Regions from separate parts of the Homo sapiens genome. Here region 1 is linked to region 2. The links come from fine-mapping of genetic effects on gene expression. A gene starts in region 2. The other region holds a variant in brackets. All regions are shown on one strand. Distances are from middle to middle.

Region 1 (10,668 bases), 300 kb after region 2:
GTAATGCATGATGACAATCCTACAGTAAAAAGGTTCAAACACTAAAAAAGTAAATAGATGACCCCTTTAACCATCCCTCTCCTCCAAGTAAGTGCTGGAATGGTTCAGCATATCCCTTTTAGTTGATTTTGCAGCATAAATCCAGCCTGCCCTATCTTCCTTCTAAAGAGAATGTCCTGGTTCCCAAGGAATTTCCTGCTTACAGGTCTTAGCAGACCTGCCCCTGTTTGGGGAAGGACCTGAATGACAAGAAGGAAGGTGTAGGAATTAGCTGCAGGCAGATCAAGAGATGAAGAGCGCTGTCCTTACCTTTCGGTCATCTTTGAAGGCATCAGCAGTAGCAGTAAAGTGCGGAATGACCTTCTTACAGTGTGGGCACCCTGTGTGAGAGGGGAAGAGAGCACACAGGACTGTGATGCATGTGCAGGGAGGCTGCAGGGCCAGGGACCCTTCCTGAAAGCTCCAGAGAGGGCTCTCCAGGAGCTCCCCACTGCCCGCCACACTGTCAGGGTCCTTTTGTCAACCTTGCCACTCTAACCACCTCCCACCCATGTCTGATCTATTGGTAGGGGGGACTGGTAGGAGTCCCTGTCACAAGCATCATATGCTCCTGCCCAGGCTGGGGGGCGATGGTCACTGTAGTCTAGTTCTGCTCCTTCCACAGAGGACGAGGAACAGCCTGATCTTGGGGGCAGAGGGAGCTTTGGGCTTAAAGAGGAAGGCACGGGATTCTCAGAGCCGCTACAATCTTCTCTTGCTCCAGGGACAATAGCAAATCTCTCCATTTCCTGACTGAGAGGAAGTGGCGTTGGGAAATGCAGGGTGGGGGGATTTTGGGGCAACTACTCTGCACCCACTGCTCATGATTTGCTGCTAACTTCTGCATTCCTAGCAACCTCCACCCAGCCCAGACTGTGAGCAGCCAAATCAGGCCCTGGTCCCCAGGTCTCCATCTACTCTTTGCTCTACAATAACCAGAACCTCAAAGCCAGGAACAGGAAGGCCATGGTCAGGGTAAGAGGGAGAGGAGCTACGGGAAGTCACCAGGCAGTCCTCAGGTCCCTTGATGCTCCCTGTCCCAGGGAGAAGGCTTGTCAGAGCAGCCTAAGGCCTTTGAGCTATACTGGGGCCCCTACCTCCAGCATCTGTCTCTTGTTCTGGGCATCACCCTGAGCCCCAACTCTGACCTCAGTGTCTCAGAAGCAGGGTAGGGACCTCTGTGGGGGCCACTTTCTCCTCCTGTCCTGGTGAGCCCAGGAGCTGCAGGCTGATCCAGCCCTTCCCTCAGCACTAACAGATCAGAACCCAAACCCCCCTCCTCTCTCAGCCCTTTCCCAGTCACTGGTGAACAGAACTGTCCAGGGCACAGAAGGGCTCTGAGGGGAGGGTTTCCCTGAGCAAGGGGAGGCTCCAGCCCACACCTCTACGTCAGCCAGCCTCCCTCAGCCTCGGGAAGGCAGAGATGCCACGGTGGGAACAGAAACGGCTTTGCTCATCTACTTTCTCCTTTTTAAAATAAGATAATAATGACTGGCATTTCAAAGGGTTTTGTGAAACCAAATTAAGGCTAAGCTACAAGTTTAATCTGAATTTAGTCCTTGAGCCAGTCTTGAGATGAGCAGGACCACCCACATGGCCTGGCTGGCAGAGTGGCCAGCTGGCCCAGAGCATTGTGGGGGGTGATGGGGGGTGGGGGTGTAGAGGGCTTTGCCAAGTCTCATGCAGAAGGAGCAGAAGAGACCTGGGCCAGTGATGGGTTATATCAGAAATGAGACAAGCACAGCTTAGCAATGTGCCTAGCACAGCCTAGCTCATGGCAGAGACTGGATGATTTTTTAATAGCCTAAAATGGAAATTACAAGTAACACTTCACTAATTTGACATAACAGAAAGAAAAATAGCTCAAATTCATGAAAATGTCACACTATAAAGGGATGATGTTATAAAATTTTCAAAACACTTAAAGAGCGCAATCTACTGGTTAACAAGGTATGTCACAGACAGCTCCTGCAGGCAGCTGCAGGCCCCTTGTGTGTGGCCTATGCCCATAATAGCATTAGGCTGGCGAAAATAACCACCCCCCTTCCTCAAAACCTGGTTTCACTATTAATTTTTCCTTTTTAACCTCTTTGTTCATTGAAAGTCTAAAGGTAACTGTCAGCCTAGTGTAAATTCCTGTTACCATCAATTTAAAATATCTAGGCCTCAGATTAATGGCTTTCTGTTGCATCTAATTTTCTCATTATCCGAAAGAAAGAGTGGGGCCAATGAGTAATGGGAGGGAGGGCTGTTTCAGAAAGTGCATGAAGATGCTTCCAAGAGGTGTCAGGAGGGCCAGATGTGGATGATTTTTTTTATTTAATGTAGGCTTAAAAAAAAAAAAAAGGCACTGCCTCTGTGTAGCAGAAAACCAAAGACGCCTCCCAGAGTGGGGAAAGAGGAACAAAGACTGAGGACAGGCTGGACAATTGCAGTTCTAGAGACTCCGCCAAGCTGGCCTGAGAAGGGCAGTCACCATGACCAGACCATTCAGCGTAAAAGGAACAATGAAACAGCAGGAGGAAGAGCTGTGCAGAAGCTGGGGAGACAGGATGCAGGGGCAGACATGGTGGGAGAAGGGATGTGGGAGGTGGAGAGATGTGAGGGGAGGTAAGATGTTGGGGTGAGGCAGCTAGAAGGGGAGCAGGAACGTGTGGGTATGCTGCTTTTCCTTTAGACCTCTATCAGGCATTTGACTTTACTATTTGACATTTCTGTAGTGTTTAGATCCTTCATATATAAAAAGTATATAGTATATGCCATATTTATATATAAAAATAGGTATTATTATTTTCATTATTAAAAAGTCAAAAGATGTATCTTTTTTGTCCTTGGAAAGTCTTCCCCCTGTAACCCACTGATAAAGATGTATGTCCCTGGGGCAAGGTTTAGGGACAGAAAAACGCAGTAACAGAAATGAAGAAACTCTAAGGACCAAGCCCTCTGCCAGAGGTTGAGTCACTCAGTGACCCTGCCCTGGATGGATTGTGTTTAGAATTTTGTCAGGGTAGACAGTGAGCCCCTCAAGGCCTGGCAGGGACATGTCTCCCTCCCTTGTACCCTGGGCCCTAGACACTGCACAGCACAGAGCTGATATTTGATGGGTAGGTGGAAGACAGGTGGGAAGGCAGGCGGGAAGGCAGGCAGGCTGGAAGGCAGAAAGGAAGGCAGGCAGGAAGGAAGGCAGGAAGGAAGGAAGGAAGGAAGGAAGGCAGGAAGGCAGGAAGGAAGGCAGGAAGAAAGGCAGGCAGGAAGGAAGGCAGGCAGGAAGGAAGGCAGGCAGGAAGGAAGGCAGGAAGGAAGGAAGGAAGGAAGGCAGGAAGGCAGGAAGGAAGGCAGGAAGGAAGGCAGGCAGGAAGGAAGGCAGGCAGGAAGGAAGGCAGGAAGGAAGGAAGGCAGGAAGGAAGGCAGGCAGGAAGGAAGGCAGGCAGGAAGGCGGGCAGGAAGGAAGGAGGGCAGGAAGGAAGGCAGGCAGGCAGGAAGGCAGGCAGGCAGGCAGGCAGGAAGGCAGGCAGGCAGGAAGGCAGGCCAGGCAGGCAGGCAGGCAGGCAGGCAGGCAGGCAGGCAGGCAGGCAGGAAGGAAGGAGTTGTAGATCTTTGGCAGCCCAAAAGGGTAAGAGTCTCTCCCAGATTCCCTGGGGATTCAAGCACCTGTCGGTCCCAGCAGCCAGGGTCAGGGTGGCGGGGGGCTTATGTCTGCTATGAAGGCCCCTCAGTCAGGGAGGAGCTGAAGAGAGGCAGAGGAAGCACTGGGCTCTGGTCCAGAGGTCTGGGGGAAAGTATTTCGTCTGGTCAAGGGCTTCCACTCCTGCAGCCAGGTTCTCACTTGCTGCTGAAAACACTCTCACTCTCTGGACTGTGCCTGTGACATAGAGAGAGCCATCCAGGCTGCGGGAGGGGCCTGCCACTAACTTGCCCCATGGCCTTGGGCAAGGCTCAGTCCTCCACCCCCTAATGCCAGAGGGAAGATGTCAGCTCCCGAAAATTTTCAGGCTTCTGGGCACACTCTACAGACCGAAGAGGACAGCCGGAAGCTCTGTAAGGGACTGGGAGAGGACAAGTCCCACTCTGAGAAGGAAAGGCAGAAAGAGATGGGCAGGGAGGCTGCCTCAAGGAGGGGCTGAGGCTGTGGCGGCCCCTCTCAGACCCTGAGAACACACAGACTCCACGGATTACTGACACTTGAAAGGTGGGGACGGGGGAGCCAACAGGAGGGCCAGCTACAACTGAGCAGGTTTATGGCTAGATGGAGCTGCCTGGCTTCTCTGTAGACTGCAGCTTTTATTATCCTCACTCCATTAAGCTGAGCTGTAACCTGGGGGAGAGAGAGAAGGGCAGCAGAGAGTGGGAAATTCTAAGAACCTTTCATTGTAAGTATCAATTAACAACTTCAAAATGGGAATACACAGAAACCTGAGGTCACCGATGCCAATGTCGGCAGACGTGTCACTTCCTCAGCTTGAGCTCTGATTAAAACGAGCACAGCACAGGAGCTCAGGAGCGAATGTGGCTGTGCCTATGCCACGGCTCCAGAGCCATCTGGAAGGGCAGGGAGAGGGGGTTCCAAGGTGCTGAAGATAAGTCAGTGTCTGGAGAAGGAAGAGGGGGCGGGGACAGCTGAGGGGTGGGAAGTGTGCAGGTAGGGGACAGGGGCATGGAGGAGCCCAGGGACAAGAGGGGACGAGCACAGAGGCAGAGGGCTTTAGGACAGACACGAGAAAGGCTGCCCCAAAGGAAGGAGAGCCCGACGAGTCTGACAAAAGGAGGCCCTGGATTTGAAGGACCTCTTAGCCTGGAATAAAATTGGAGAGCCTGGTTCATAATGGAGATGACCCTGGGATCCATCAGCGGCTGCCTTGGTCCCTGGGGTGGGTGTGCGGGTCTTTTTGGTTTGGTGGGGCCAAACCCCTCTTACTGTGCCACTCAGTGAGCACCCAAGCTACTTACAAGGGGCGTAGAACATGACCAAGGTGTGTTTCTTCTTCTTCAGGGTCTCCCGGAAGTTGTCCCCCACCAGGTGCAACACGCTTGTCTGCTGCTCTTCCCACGTGGGCTCTGGGGGCGGGGGGGCCTCAGGGCTGCAAGAAGCCAGGGGAGTGGGGAGGCAGCCATAAGGAGAGATTTTTAGATGGGCAAGGAAATCCACCCTCAATGTCCCAACCACTCGGGGGAACATGCATGAAGAAACCACTACAATCCTTCTAAAATTTCATTTTAAAACCACAGTTTAAACACAAACAAATCTGTGCCACCAGCAAAGACCTTCCCTGATTCCCTCTGAGGAGCCCATTAAGGAGCCATTTTGTAAAATATGGAAGACTTGACACCATTTCAGGTCAGGGCAGCCCCCCCAGTTGTGGGCCACGAACTCCTTGACAAGAGCATAGAGGCACCTCTGCTTGGACTCCCAGGCCCCTCCTTTCTGCCCCCTCTAGGACCCTACATGATCGTTCATTATCTTCTGGTTCTCAGCTTCTGTTCTGGTGGAGAGCATGGGCCAAGGAGTGAGGCGGGCCTGGGTTCAAGTCCAGATGACTTACCAGCTGTGCAACCTTAGGTAAGTTACTAAACCCCTCTGAGCCTCCGTTTTCTTTTCTGTTAAATGAGGACAATGGGATCTTTATGAAGAGCAGAGAATGTATGAAAAGCATCTACTCAGTCAAGGAACTAATATTTACTGAGAGCCTAGATGCTCTAATAAATGCCAGGCATTGGATAAATGTTATTGCTTCTCAGTCTCTTGCTGTCCACTGGGTCCCTCCACTCTGCCTCATGCAAGGATGGATCTCCAGGGTCTTGCAATAGCTTTTGCTCCCCTGCTTCCCTCTCTATAACTCAGCTCCCCTTCTTGGGAGTATTTCTGGGGAGAGGGCTACACCCACGCTGCCACGTCTCCCACTGGGCTTGTGCCACAGCCCCTGCACCAGCTGAGTGCAGCCCTCTCTGTGCTTCCAGTTCTATTCTGAGCCCTTGCAATTCTCAAAGATCTCATTCCTCTGCATGGCTCCAGTGATTTCCATGGCTGAGAAGAACTTAAGGCCTCACCTCTCATCCAAGCTCCTTATTTCCAGGTGTTTTTCAGGCATTTCCAGCTGGAAGTCCCATTGTAACCTCAAATCCACCATGACTTAGAACACATTACTCTTCCCTCCTCCTCCCAAATCAGTCTCCCTGCCTCTCACCTTCTCCTGTGCTGGTGACTAAGACGGGCCCCTCCCAGCCTTCCTCCCTGTCTTTGTCCTCCAGCTTCTCTGGTTCCATGGCTGACACCACTCATCTGACCTTTCTGCTCTGCCTTTTCCCTGAACACTGCCTCCCCAGGCTGGCCTGCTGGCAGG[C/T]GCATCTCAGTTACCCACAGCCTGGCAGCCTATGCACCTGCCTGTAAATGCCATCCACCTTTTCTGGCGCTGTCTGCTCGCCCTGCTTCTGGGTGACGAGTCTCAGTTCTCCACCCCCGAGCCATCGGCTGTTCACACTCCACCTGAAGGATCCCCTCCAAGTTCCCGGAAGAACTACTATTTGTCCCTGGATAGGGCCCTTAACCTCTCTGAACCTAAGTTTCTTCACCAATGAAATAGGAATTAAAAACTCTGGCCTCAGCAGGACTTGAGGATGAAATGGAGCAAGAGATAGGAGAGCATTCTGCAAAGGCTGGCTGCTGTGATCACTTATGTATTGATACTGTCAGTCATGAGAAGTCCACAATCAGTCATAAAAATAGCTTCAACCTTTTTTTTTTTTTTAAGACAGGGTCTCACTCTGTTGCTGAGGCTGGAGTACAATGGCACCATCCCAGCTCACTGTAGCCTCAACCTCCCGGCTTCAAGCAATCCTCCCACCTCAGATTCCCAAAGTGCTGGGACTATAGGCGCACACCACCATGCCCAGGTAATTTTTTTGATTTTCGGTAGAGGTGGGGTCTCACTATGTTGCCCAGGCTGGTCTTGAACTCCTGAACTCAAGAGATCCTCCTGCCTCTACTTCCCAAAGTGCTAGGATTACAGCCATGAGCCACCGTGCCCGGCCAGTTTCAACTTTTTTGAGTACTTCCACATCATGTCCTGTGCTGAGCACTTTTCACAGGAGTCTCATTTAATTCCCTAGACAAGTCTATGGGGAAATTACTGTCTCCATCTTACAGATAGGAAACTGGGGCTTAGAGGCATCAAAGAAATGGCTCAGGGTCACGATCTCAGCCCAGGTCTCTCAGACTCCAAAGCCCATGCTCTTGACCTAAAAGCACTTAAGAAAGTATTTAAACCTGAAAGCACTTAGCCTGAGTGCTTTTCAGGCTCTCAGTAGCAGCAGTGGCACACAGAAAGGACAGAGGCCCCTCATGCTCGCTGTTTGTGGCCAAGACTCTGGAGCACTGATTAGTGATGATCGACACTCTGGATTCCCTCGGCTCTCTAACCAGAAGTCCAAGCATCACAGGGACCTGGCCAGATCCCCCGCCCCACCCAGTCCTTTCCAGTGAACCAGCCCTGGCACCAGAGCAAGGCTGGAAAAGTGGGTGTGAACAAGCCACTTACTTCAGACACCAGAAGGCCTTGAGGGGTAAGCAAGCACCTTGTGCCTTTCAGAGGCAAACCATCATTTTCCTCTGGTCCCTAAGACAAAGGCCTAGCTACTTTCCAAATCCTCCCAGTGGATGAGCAGGACAAAGTGGGAGAAGCTGAGGCCAGGATCTCATCAGTCCATTCATCTCTTGCCAGAGGCCTCCCCTGAATCTAGTGGCAACTTTGCTGCCATTCCACAAGCTGGTGTTGCTTAGAACACCATGGCTGAGGGTCCCATTCACACTTCCTGAATAAAAGAGTCTCAGAGTCTATGCTTTAAATAAACACCTCATATCTGACTGATGTCCTAACAAAGTAGCTCAGACCGTATAGGTTCAACTGTGTCCCCCTCTAATTCATATGTTGATGTCCTAACCCCCATTATCTCAGAATGTGACTATATCTAGAGATAAATTATCCCTTTAAAGGGATAATTCAGTTAAGATGAGGTCATTAGGGTGGGCTCTCATCCAACATGACTGGTGTCCTTATAAGAAGAGCAGATTAGGTCACAGATACATATAGAGGGGTGGCCATGGGAAGTCACAGGCAGAAGATGGCCAAGGGGAGGGGCCTCAGAAGAAACCAACCCTGCCAACATCTTGATCTCTGACTTCTAGCCTCCAAAATTGTAAGAAAATAGGCTGCACATGGTGGTTCACGCCTGTAATCCTAGCACTTTGGGAGGCTGAGGCGGGTGGATCACTTGAGCTCAGGAGTTCGAGACCAGCCTGGGCAACATGGTGAAACCCCGTCTCTACTAAAAATACAAAAAATTAGCCAGGCATGGTGGCATGTGCCTGTAATCCCAGCTACCTGGGAGGCTGAGGCAGGAGAATCGCTTGAACCTGGGAGGTGGAGGTTGCAGTGAGCCGAGATCATGCCTCCAGCCTGGGTGACTAAGTGAGACTGTCTCAAAACAAAACAAAACAAAACAAAATTGTAAGAAAATAAACTTCTGTTATATTGTTATATTATATTGTTGAGCCACCTGGTCTGTTACTTGGTTATGGCAACACTAGCAAACTAATACATAGGCTGAGGGGGCTCTTCAAAATCTTTATCCTCAGTTGCAAACCACCATAGCCTGCCCTGTGGACATTACTGGAGGCCCAGCCAACCACTAGCAAACCTGGACGAAATGAGTCTAGCTCTGGCTATGAAGAGCTGTGTCTCCTTCATTTATTCAAAGGGAGTGGAATAAAATGCAGACAATAAGATCTGGGCCTAAGGAGGCTGAGACAGAGAAAAAGCAACACACGGTTTAGTGCGTCGATGAAGCTGCGTCCAGAAGGACTGCCAGCAGTGACCTGATCAAGACACGTGATCAGCATATGAACGGTGGTTTTAGGGTTGAGGAAGTCAGATCCGTCTTGACTCCTACGGGCATGAGCCCAGGACATTGACCATAAAGTTTACTTCACCTCCTCAAGGTGGTCTCCAGGGGCCGCCAGCTGGCAGTTAGGATGTGCTACTGAGATCGTAACACTTACTTTTGCATCCACTCGAGAAACTTCTTCTTTGTCCTGAGCACAGGCACTGCGTATTTCTCTCCATTCTTAAAATACTTCAACGTAGGAAACTCTGAGATGTGGAATCTTTCTGCCAGGGCCTTGTTGACAGTGGCATCGACAGCTGCAAGGACACCAGAGCTCTGGGATGGGGGAAAGGCCAACCATGCATTACAGCCTCAGATGCGGTGCTGGTGGAACACAGGAGCCCAGACGCTGCCCCCACAACCCATCCTGGACCTGCTGGAATTTAACTGGGGTGGCTAGCCCAGTGGGCTCCCATATCCCAGGGAACAACTGAACATTGGCACGGCCATCATTTCTCATTTATGAGCTGAGATGAGGCTTTTGAATCTGCCCCACCAGCCACGTTGAGTAGATTGGCACCTGTTCCTGTTAGCCAGGGTCCCAGAGAAAAGAGGGAGCAGGCAGAGGTCACCTGGATGGGCACGGGAACATGGGCCAGTAGTCTTTCTGCCCCCTCTAGGATCCCATCTGTCTAAGATGTTCTACTTGGGCACACAGAGGTACTGCTGGCCTCCACGGACCACGGGAGCTGCAGCAGGGCTTGCAGGGGAAAGTCATAATGATTCCACCTGTCAGTGATTCTTTCAAAGAGAACGGTGAGGGGGAAGGAAAGGAAGCTTACATCCGCTTCTCCATGGAGGGCTTCTGCTGCCTTCTCAAACTCCGGCTTCATTTTCTTACAGTGGCCACACCCTGTGGGGAGAGATCAAGAGAAACCATTCTTATGGCACAGAGGCCCTCGGGATGCTCCCCTGCGCCGCCTCTGTAAGGCAGCTCAGTCCCATTCCCAGACACCTGAGAAAAGCAGCAGCAGCACCAGCTCAAAGAAAAGAAATATTTTGCATAATCCACCAGAAGTGGGTTGGGGTAGTGGGAAGGTACCCCAGACACAAAAATAAAACAACTGCATAAATAATACGGGCAACTGGTGTGCCAGGTACTGACCAGTGCCTTACAGCCTCATAACTACCCCACAAAGTAGGAACTGACATTATCTCCATTCTATGGATTAGACAATTGAGGCACCAAGAGGGCAGGTGACTGCCCAAGGCCATATACACAGCCATGGTCACAGAGCTGGGTTGAAAACCCAACCATCTGGTGAGAGGCCCTAGCTGCAGGCAGCGTGTAGGTTGTGGCACCATGCTGTGATCACCATCATCATCTTCTCTGGACAGAAGGCAGTCTGAGGCCTTGAGCTGGGCACAAAAATTCACAGAAGCATAAGTATGGGACATAATTACATTCTAATTGTCCCCATATGACATGATGGGAATTTTTTGGGATAGAAACTGCTCTGTCCTTTTCTTTCTTTTTTTTTTGTTTTGAGATAGAGTCTTGCTCTGTCTCCCAGGCTGGAGTGCAGTGGCGCCATCTCTGCTTACCGCAAGCTCCGCCTCCTGGGTTCATGCCATTCTCCTGCTTCAGCCTCCCACGTAGCTGGGACTACAGGCACCCGCCACCACGCCCGGCTAATTTTTTTTGTACTTTTTCAATAGAGATGGGGTTTCACTGTGTTAGCCAGGATGGTC
Region 2 (10,668 bases):
GGGATGAAGGCTGTGGTAAGAGAATGTGGAAGAAGAGACAAATGCGAAAAGACAAGGCAGAGGAGATATTATCACTCTTAAGATCACAGAGTTTGGACGAAGGTAATTCCACCAGCAGCATGAAAAGGGAGTGAGGAGCAAGCTACTTGGGAGATGACCTTATTTTCAGAAACAGTGAATTTGGGATCTGGTGAGTCCCAAGGAGCATCGATGGGGAGCTCTCCAGTAGCCAGAGGGAAGCTTGGAACTGGGAAGGGAGGCAAGGGCTGAAGATACAGATTTCAAAAATATCTTAGAGAAAAAAACATGCTTATCCTTGGGCCCAGCAATTCTATTTGTAGGAATTTTTCCTAAGGATATGTGTAAATTTTTATTCATTTATTTATTTTTGAGACAGCATTCTCTCTATGTTGCCTAGGCTGGCCTCGAACTCCTGGGCTCAAGAGATCATCTCACCTCAGCCTCCTGAGTAGCTGAGATTACCAATGTGAGCCACTGTGCCCAGCTTGTGTGAAAATTTATCTACAGAAATGCTCACTGTTTATAATAGTAAAGGAGGGGAAACTTTTATTTATAAACTGCTATGACAGTGAAAAATGCCTAACAGTAGGGGATTGGTTAAATAAAGTATACTATACCCATGCAATTTGGACAGTAAAATGGATATTGTAGATGGATGCTTATTGACATGAAAAAAAATCCACAATATTTTGCTAAGTAGAAAATGGTAGACTCTAAAACTAATTGTAGAGTAAAAGATCCAGTTATTGTTTAAGAAAAAAATTAACATATTAATACTGGTTTTTTTTTTTTGAGATGGAGTCTTGCTCTTTCACCCAGGCTGGAGTGCAATGGTGCAGTCTCGGCTCACTGCAACCTCCACCTCCCGGGTTCAAGTGATTCTCCTGCCTCAGCCTCCCGAGTAGCTGGGATTACAGGTGCCCATGACCACGCCTGCCTAATTTTTGTATTTTTAGTAGAGATGGGGTTTCACCATGTTGGCCAGGCTGGTCTCGAACTCCTGATCTCATGATCCGCCCTCCTCAGCCTCCCAAAGTACTGGGATTATAGGCGTGAGCCACCGCGCCCGGCCAATACTGGTTCTTTGGTGATATGATTATGAGTGTGTTTTCTTTCTTTTTAATTTTTTTCCCACATCAATCATACATGGCTTTTGTTGTAAGACAATTATTTTTAAAAATTGAATAAAATTAAGAGGAATGACTTAGGGATAGCTCTGGGAATGAGAAGATGAGAGGATCAAGGATGGAACCTTGATCAATAGCCTTGATACCTCTGGCCCTGTGGCCCCTGTCCGTGCAGTTGACTATGTCTTGAGGGTGCCACCCATGTCATATCTGCTACATTGCTGCATGGTAGAATACAACGAGCAGACTGCTACAACTATGAGCTTTGGGCAAACTCATATATATATATATATATATATATAAATAATTTTATTTTATTTTTTTTGAGACAGAGTATTGCTGTGTTGCCAGGCTGGAGTGCAGTGGTGCAACCTTGGCTCACTGCAACTTCCACCTTCTGGGTTCAAGCAATTCTCCTGCCTCAGCCTCCCAAGTAGCTGGGACTACAGGCACACACCACCACGCCTAGCTAATTTTTGTATTTTTAGTAGAGACAGGGTTTCACCACGTTGGCCAGGATGGTTTCGATCTCTTGACCTCGTGATCCGCCTGCCTTGGCCTCCCAAAGTGCTAGGATTAGAGTCGTGAGCCACCATGCCCGGCCTTTTTATTTTTTATTTTTTTTTTGAGACAGAGTCTCATTCTGTCAACCAGGCTGGAGTGCAATGGCATGATCTCGGCTCACTGCAACCTCCACCTCCCGGATTCAAGTGATTCTCCTGCCTCAGCCTCCAGAGTAGGATTACAGGCTCACACCGCCACGCCCGGCTAATTTTTGTATTTTTAGTAGAGACGGGTTTCACCATGTTGGCCAGGCTGGTCATGAGCGCCAGACCTCAGATGATCTGCCTGCCTCAGCCTCCCAAAGTGCTGGGGTTACAGGCATGAGCCACCATGCCTGGCTGGACAAACTTTTTGATTCCCTAAGTCTGTTTTCTCATCTTTATAGTGGGGATAACCTTCCTCAGAATAGTTATCTGACAATAAAATGTTTACAGACATACAACAGTTGCTTAGTAAATATTAATTAGTCCATCCTCCCTTTCTTAGACATCCTTCCCTGCTAGACCCAGGTTTGACTTCCAGGCCCTTGTTTGGCCCTCACAGTGGGAAGTGACACCCCCTCTCTCTGAATGCCCGAGGTGCTGTTTGCACTTCTATTGAACCCAGAACTTTGCTCTGACCTAGAGATAGTGGCTAGCTCTTCTCCGTCACTGACTTGTTCGACTTGTTCCCGGTCTAGAGTTTGGTCATCTCTCTATCCTGGTAGCAACTAGCACAATGCTTTGTACATTGAGGGTTCTCTAGAATTTTTATTGACTAAATTCATGTTTTTTTTTACAACTTGGCTAATAGTGGAATACTCAAAGGCTGGATTACCCAAGGGTTAGTTTATTCTGACCTCTTGGAATTTTTCTCCTCCCAATTTGTAACTCTGGCAAGGTTTATCTTCCAGTCTGCAGAGATGACCAGCAGAGAGAGACAAAGAAGGAAGCTCACTTAGACCTCTAGGCTCCCTGTCAGAAGCTCTGGGGAGAGAGTTGGAGGATGAAGAAGGGGAAAGTAAAAGCTGTTTACCCCCAGGCTGGGTAGGAGTGTGGTCTCCCACCTCTCCAGGGTTTAGACTGTCAGAACTCCAGCAGGACAGCTTGGGGGCAAAGGGAATTGGGTAGACACATCATTCTACAGGCCTACGTCCTTTTTGCCTAGCAGTCGAATCCTTCTCTCCATTCCTGCCTCTTGTGGCTGGTGCTGTGTATCTAGCCATTTTCCCCTTCCCCTGCTTCCCCCCAAGTGGGCACGCCAGCTTGCTCAGGTGCCCATCCTTCCTGCTAACACCTTGTTAGGTTAGGGAGGCAGTCTGGCGCTGACGAAGGACCTTTGGGTGCCAAGTTAGTAGACCTGTGTGACCTATAGCAAGTTGAATAAGCTCCCAGAGCCTCAGTTTCTGCATCTATAAGCTGGGAATAGCTACACGGTCTCTGTCCTCTGTCTCATCCTAGGATTACTGACGGGAACCAAGTGAGATTTATGAGACTTTACGAACAGGCAAAGAGCGCTTTATAAAAGCCAGGTGTTTCCAGTGTTCACTGTGGGGCTTTCTCCTGGTAACTACCCACCAAAGCCTCCCTGTCCGCCCCGCCCCGGCTGCATCGGCCTCACCCACTGCATCACCATCTTTTCCATCACTGTCTTCCTGCGTCTCAGAAGTCCTGTTTCTGCATCTCCCCTGTCCATTTCCGGGTCTGGCTCTCCGGCCCCTGAGACCCCTCCAGGGACTCTGTTCTCCTTCTCCTTGAGGCACTCGCTGCCCAGGCGCCCCCCACCCGGTGCGCCCTCCTTTGGCACAGCCGCCGGGCCAGAGAATCGCCCAATAAGAGCGCCGGACTGTAGTCTGACAGCTCCGGAAGCGGCCAATCGAGCCGGGCCAGGGAAGGGGGGCGCAGCGCCGGGGCTGAAGTTGGGTTAAATGGGGGGAGGGGGATTAAAGGGGGATACAAAAGAGGGGAGCTAGGACTGGGGGCGCTGGAGCCCTGGCCGGGGGCGGGGGAAGACCGCGCTCCACCCAGGTCTGGTGACGGGACCGCAGGCTGGATGCGGCTCCTAGTCCCAGGGAGGGAGGGGCGCAGCGAGAATTTTAGGTGAGGAAGGGGAACTGGGGTGCCCGCGGCCAGGCCTGAGGATGCCCGCGGGGCGCCGAGGCTGGGGCCATGGCCAGGCCGGGGGCGGAGGCGGCCTCGCGCGGCTGTGAGCCGAGGCCCGGGCGGCGCGGGGGGCGGGGAGGCAGCGGGAGGAGGGGATGCGGAGGGCTCTCCGGCGGCGGCGAGCGGGCGAGAAGGGAGGAGCGGCGCGAGCGGCCGGAGCGGCGCAGGGCCCGAAGCGTGCATGGCGCGCCCTGAGCCGGGCTCCCGCGGGCCCCCCCGGAGCGCCTCTCGGGCGCCGCGGCTCTCAGGCGGGCCCCTCTGGGCCGGCTGCTTCTGAGCCCCGGCGCTGGATCTCTGGATGCCTTACTCCCCGGGAGAAGCCTGCCTGCGTCGGGGCAGAACCGCGGCAGCGCTGCGCCGGATTCCGTCCTCCGCCTAGTCGTTCCGCGCCGGCCGCGGTGGGCCCGCAGCCGGCGACGAGGAGCTTGGGGCTTGCGAAGCGGGCGCGACAGCTCTCCGGGCCGGCAGGTCCCGGCCGGCCCCGCTCCGTTTGCGGGAAAGGGAGAGGCGAGAGGGGAAGGGCCGCACCGCAGGAGCCGGTCCCTGACCCGGACCCCGCCCCCTGCGCGGACGCGCCGAAGGCTCGGCTCGGCTTTCGCCGGGGCCACGCATCCACTCTCGCCGCGAGAGGTGGGGGATGCGGGCAACGGCCCCCCCGGGCTCCAGGACCCTCCCCCCCGGGGCTCCGGAGCTGTTGCTCCGCCCGTCGCCCCCTCCCCCGTCCTCTCCACCTCCCATCCCACCTCCCCACCCCTCGTAAGAAAATAATGCTGGCTGGCGCCCGCACCTCCCAGTCGCTCCCAGTCCGCTGCGAGGAAAGCGCACCCGCAGTGTCTCTTCGCCGGGACCCCCGCCGAGCCGCCCTCGCCGCCGCCGAGCCCCGAGAGCAGCTGGGCTCCGCTTAGGCGGAATCAGCGAGCGCCGCGCCCGGGCACTGCCGGCCCGAGGAGGCACCGCCCGCAAGGACACCACTCCGTCCCGTCTCGTCCGCAACTCCGGCCCTCGTCGAGCTCGACGCGAGCCAGGATCCCGGACGTCTCTCCGCGTGCGGCGCAGCAGCAGCCAGACCAGTCCCTGCGACCCCACCTCGGAGGCAACTCCATTTCGGACCTGGGACTTCTGACGCGGATCCTCAGCTACTTCTCACCTCGGGGCTGTGCCCTCCTCCTCCGCTCAGGACGGGGGTGCCAAGATGCCCCGCTGCAGCGCAGGGCCCCGGGCCGCCCCCGACGTGTGACCCTAGCCTGGTCCCCCTGCTCGGCCGTCCGCCCTCCCCTTGGAGACCCCCGGCCCGGCTTCCGGGGGAGGAGGAAGGAGACGACGAGGCCGAGGGGGGGATGTCCGGCTCCAAAAGCGTGAGCCCCCCGGGCTACGCGGCGCAGAAGACTGCGGCGCCGGCGCCCCGGGGAGGCCCCGAACACCGCTCTGCGTGGGGCGAGGCCGATTCCCGCGCGAATGGCTACCCCCATGCCCCCGGGGGCTCTGCCCGCGGCTCCACCAAGAAACCCGGGGGGGCGGTGACCCCGCAGCAGCAGCAGCGCCTGGCCAGCCGCTGGCGCAGCGACGACGACGACGATCCTCCGCTGAGCGGTGACGACCCCCTGGCCGGGGGCTTCGGCTTCAGCTTCCGCTCCAAGTCCGCCTGGCAGGAGCGCGGCGGCGACGACTGCGGTCGCGGCAGCCGCCGGCAGCGGCGGGGCGCGGCCAGCGGGGGCAGCACCCGGGCGCCCCCTGCGGGCGGCGGCGGCGGCTCGGCGGCGGCGGCTGCCTCGGCGGGCGGGACGGAGGTGCGCCCTCGCTCGGTGGAGGTGGGTCTGGAGGAGCGGCGGGGCAAGGGGCGCGCGGCCGACGAGCTGGAGGCCGGCGCCGTCGAGGGCGGCGAGGGGTCCGGGGATGGCGGCAGCTCGGCGGACTCGGGCTCGGGCGCGGGGCCCGGCGCGGTGCTGTCCCTGGGCGCCTGCTGCCTGGCGTTGCTGCAGATATTCCGCTCCAAGAAGTTCCCGTCGGACAAACTGGAGCGGCTGTACCAGCGCTACTTCTTCCGCCTGAACCAGAGCAGCCTCACCATGCTCATGGCCGTGCTGGTGCTCGTGTGCCTGGTCATGTTGGCCTTCCACGCGGCGCGGCCCCCGCTCCAGCTGCCCTACCTGGCCGTGCTGGCGGCCGCCGTCGGCGTGATCCTCATCATGGCTGTGCTTTGCAACCGCGCCGCCTTCCACCAGGACCACATGGGCCTGGCCTGCTATGCGCTCATCGCCGTGGTGCTGGCCGTCCAGGTGGTGGGCCTGCTGCTGCCGCAGCCACGCAGCGCCTCTGAGGGCATCTGGTGGACCGTGTTCTTCATCTACACCATCTACACGCTGCTGCCCGTGCGCATGCGGGCCGCAGTGCTCAGCGGGGTGCTCCTGTCCGCCCTCCACCTGGCCATCGCCCTGCGCACCAACGCCCAGGACCAGTTCCTGCTGAAGCAGGTAGGGGCCGACCTGGCCACCGGGACTGGATTGCGGGGCGGGCAGGCCTCAGCTGGACTCCAAAGAAAGGGATCCCACCCTCACCCTTTCGAATGGTGAAAAGAGCCAGAGAGACAGGGCTCGGCCATGTAGGCTATTTGGGAGCTTCTTACCCCACTCTGAGCCCCAGCGGCTTCATTTACAAAAAGAGTGCCCTTGTGTCGTTTGCAGTGTTCCTTGCCCCTTAGATAACGTGTACTGAACTGTAGCCATCACTGTGGGAATGCAGTGAGGAAGGTTGGAGGAGAAAATTATAAGGAGTGTTTCCCATCTCTTCCTGAGCTTCTGTTCCTATATACAAAAGGCCCCTAACGAAAGTGGCTGGACCCTCTAGCAGCCACCCCCTCGTGAGTGCCACTGCTGCTTTGTTAATCCAGCCCTGGATAGAGGGTTGGTGAGGGGACACCCTGCACCCCTTGCTCAGTGGTAAGGAGGAGGTAGCATGAGCCTGCCACCTGTCTAAGGCTGGGGATTTGGTAGCTGGAGATATCCCTGAACTTGCAGAAGGACTGACAAGTTTGTTTCAGTTAGCAGAGCGCCCCAAGCCAAAAACCTGCCCTTCGCTAAAGTGGGAAGGAGCCTCCGAGATGTGTGTGGTGGCAATTCCCCTTCCGGCCTGAGCAGAAAGCTGTTGTTGAACATCATGACCCCTTCAAGTGGGTGCCCCTGGTCATTGCTTGTGGTAGGGACATTTTATCCCTGCTGGGATTTGTTGGGTGAGTCTAGAACTGCAGGTTCAGGAAGAAATACAACTTTTGCCTGGTTAGCTGGTGACTCTCTTAAAGGCTTCTGTGAGAGGGGCATGTTGGCTATCCTGACCTCAGGGTGAGAGGAGCCCCCCTGCCATCCATACCATATCTCCCTTTAGTGTCCTGTGGTCTGGTTTCCTGGTCCTCATCCATGATTGCTTCTGAACCTGCTTGTTTGCATGCTGCTCCACTGTGAGAGTCCACTGGGCCCTTGCTACAGGCAAGTCTCTTCACCTTGGACCCCAGTGCACACATCTGCCCACTGGTGTCTGCCTTCTCGAATAGAACCTCTTAAGGGTTTTCCATTGTCATTGCCTTCCTCTGTCTCCCCTCTTCTAGTGCCTTCTCTTAGACTTTTATCCTCTTGAGTACCGCATCTTTCTTGAGTTGCTCTCCTGTGTCCCCTGGCTTCCTGGACATAGTATTCTTCCATAGAGAATAGCACTGTTATGGGTTTCAGGGCTCTGGGCTCTAGCTGAACCTGCAGGGTGCTCTGTGACTGGGACGGAGGGGACACACAAGCTCTCTGGGCCTTTGCTACCTTTTCTAGAGAATGAGAGGAATGTTTATGTCCCTTCCACTTCTAACGTCCTCTGCCCCAAGCTGTACCCCTGCAAGGAACCTTCTTCTTCCATTCCAGCCACACTGACCTCGTGGTCTTCTGTATGATTAACAATAGAGTCAGAGGCACAGAGTGGAGCACTTATTCATTTTCCAGTGTCCACTTGTTTTGCTGTCTGTCCAGTGTAACCTCCATGGATGCACAAATCCCAAGGTGTATGTGTTTTTCCTCCTCTATTCTCTCACCCTTACCTAAGCACAGTGCAGAATACTTAGTAGGGATTTAATAACTGCTTGCCAATATAGTTGGGGTCCAGTGAATGGAGTAAGTGGGGCTGTTGATGCTAAGTTAAAAGTTTTTTCAGATCTGAGATGAGAAGAAAAAAAAAATCTTTAGAGACCAGCTTTGCAGAAGACTTTTGAGAGGTGGTGGTTTAAAAGTTACTACCATTGTTAGTGCTTATAAAAGCCCCAACTCTTTTGACCCGAGGACTCGTGCTTTCAGATGGTTGTTGTATCTTTGGGGACTGCTCCTGATTTGGGTGGATGTAGCTTTTCTGCAGAGGAAGGGGCATGTCATCCATATGGAGATTTTCAGGATAGTTCAGGGTATTTTGTGAACCAGACTTGGGACACAGGGTCTGATTACAGCTGTAGGTATGGTTTCTCCTGAGGGGGGTTGGAGTCAGATCCCAGGAAAGGGGTGCTGAGCCTTGGGGGGGGCCCCAATTCCACCTTAGCATGAAAATACCATTGCAGCAACAGAGTGTCTGTCTGACTGACTTCTCCTTCTGGTTCCTTAGGCAAATCCCTCTCCCTTCTCTCCCCACCCCCACTGGCTCCTACCCTGTTCTTTTACCCACTGTGGTCTTTAGACTTTTGCAAGGCTGTAGGATTTTGGGTGGATTTACACTTACTTTATATGATCTTCCCTGAGTGGTGCAGAGCTTGTTATGAGTGGTTCAAGACAAGGGAATGCAAACATTTCCTCTATTTGGCTTCAGAGAAAACTGTATCTTTTTTTGTTTGTACTTGATTTACCCTTTTGATTATGCCTCATATAAAATTTGTCTTTCTTGAGCAAACCCTGCTGGCTGGTGGGGGAAGTCCAGCATTAACCTCTGCCTCAGGTTACTCCAGAACAGCAGGCATGTAAGAGTGGTTGGGATTAGATGCCTTGTTCTTTTCTTTGTTGAGACACATGTCCAGGGAAATGGGTGGCAATGAGCAGTTCCTATGTTGGGGCTTTGGGAATTCCCCCTTCGGTGGCTTGGACACATAGTAGGCCCTCAGTAAACTGGACTGGCATTTCTTCACTGCTCCTCTTGCAAGGCTGGACCTCTCCCCCTTTACTCAGGTCCTCAACATCATTATCTGACCTGTGTATTTTATTCTTCTTCAGCCTCTCTTATGTGTGGGGCTCTGCCCTTGGCTCCAATTAGGAGAAGCATTTGGTTTCTTAACCAGTGGCTCCTGACAGTTTTGACTCAAGGGAGGAACAGGACACAAGGTGCCACAGCCCCTCTTGGTGGGATGGTGTTTCTTCCCTTCTCCATCCCTCTGGCTCTGTCCATAGTGTTTGTCACCCTCCCCCTCGGCTCCTTCTCTCTCTCTGCCTGCTCCTTTCCTCTCTGACTTCCTTTCTCTTCCCTCTCCCTCTGATCCCTGTTACTGTCTGCCCACCTCACCTCTCTGCTGCCTTCCTGCAGGCTCTGCTTTCCCATCTCTCCCTCCCTGTTCGAGGCCTCTCAGCCTCTGCTGTGCTCTTGTCTCACTGTCGACTCCTGTCTCCTCGCTGGGGTATAGTAGGAGCGTCACGGGGTTGTTTTTTTCTCCTCCTTTGCCTGTTAGAAGTCCCTCTGCTACACCCATACCATAAATAACACTGGAGCATCTGCCAAACACATTCCTCACTTGTGTTAATAGGCTGCAATGATGCTGGAGCCTGTTGCCATGGCAACCTCATTTTTGTTTGACTGTATCCCACTCTGCTACATAAAGCTTCTGCACGCACTCACACAAAAACAAGCATGCTCACACAACTATTACATATGCTTAGCTATTAACGATTATTTTGGAGAAGGTATCGTTGTGCCCTGTGGGGTGGGGTGGTCATTTGCACTCCAGGAGATTAGCAGCAGCTCTATGGTCTGGACTCTAGGTGATGATGGATGGAAGAGCTCTTTGAAAAGTGGAGAGTCCTGTTCAAATATGGGGTATTATTATTATGCATCCACATTCAATCTGCCTGACATGGTTTCTGAGGAGAAGATTCTGACCCCGCATGGGTCCCCGTGAGCTTGGGGGAGCCACTAGGGGTTTTCCCTGCAGTGTGGGACAACCCATCTCCCACCCCACCCTGTCTTTCCCCAGCTTCTTAGTGATTTCCTGCATTTCTTCTTTTGTGCCTATTTGAACCTACAACTGTCACCAGTTGTTCCAGTGATCAGAAAGGCACAGGCGCTGTGTGGGTGAAATTCTGTGACTGTGAGCACGTGTGTCTGTAGCGAGGAGACAAATGAGGGGTGGGGGTAGGAATATGGACCAAGAATCGAGGCTGTGGCTGTTCAGGGGTGCATGTGTGTACGTGAGCACGTGCGCATCTGTCTATCTGGTATGAGGCTGACCCAGGTGGTGGACGTGGGCCTGGGAAGCCTTTGTGTTAACTTTGAAAGGAGATCATGGCAGCCCTGTCCTGTTTATTCTTGGCTGGTAGTTGGCTTCCCCTGGCCGTTTGCTTTTCTGGTCCTGGGCCTTGATGGTTCTTCGGACCTCGACCTCTGGCTCCCCAGGGAAGTAAGTACCTGGGGCTCTTCTGACTCCATGGAGTCCCTTTCTTCTCTTTCAAGAACCTTTCCTGCTACCTACCTGCTCAGCAGCCCAGCCCAATGAGCCCCGCTGAAGAGCTGCCACCTTGCTCTGGAACTTGGCCCAGAGGCCTGTCTGGTGGATCACTCTGGCTGCCCCATGTGAGACGCTGGGTAGAGTGGAGGAA

Evidence for each region.
Region 1: its variant is fine-mapped to the expression of ADCY5 in esophagus muscle (GTEx, PIP 0.97).

The regions. Positions count from the first base shown.
Region 1 is chr3:123,144,683-123,155,350 of GRCh38, reverse strand. It overlaps PDIA5 (protein disulfide isomerase family A member 5), which reads right to left. Exons shown (of 17, transcript NM_006810.4): 12 at 9,759-9,829; 13 at 9,092-9,252; 14 at 4,987-5,117; 15 at 310-380. Among named protein-coding and RNA genes, the nearest start is that of MIR7110, 12 kb to the left of the region's middle. RefSeq lists an enhancer at 723-1,223. The variant C/T (reference allele first, on the strand shown) is at 6,378.
Region 2 is chr3:123,443,068-123,453,735 of GRCh38, reverse strand. ADCY5 (adenylate cyclase 5) reads left to right here and starts at 4,646. Exons shown (of 21, transcript NM_183357.3): 1 at 4,646-6,324. The coding sequence starts at 5,191. RefSeq lists an enhancer at 5,585-6,484.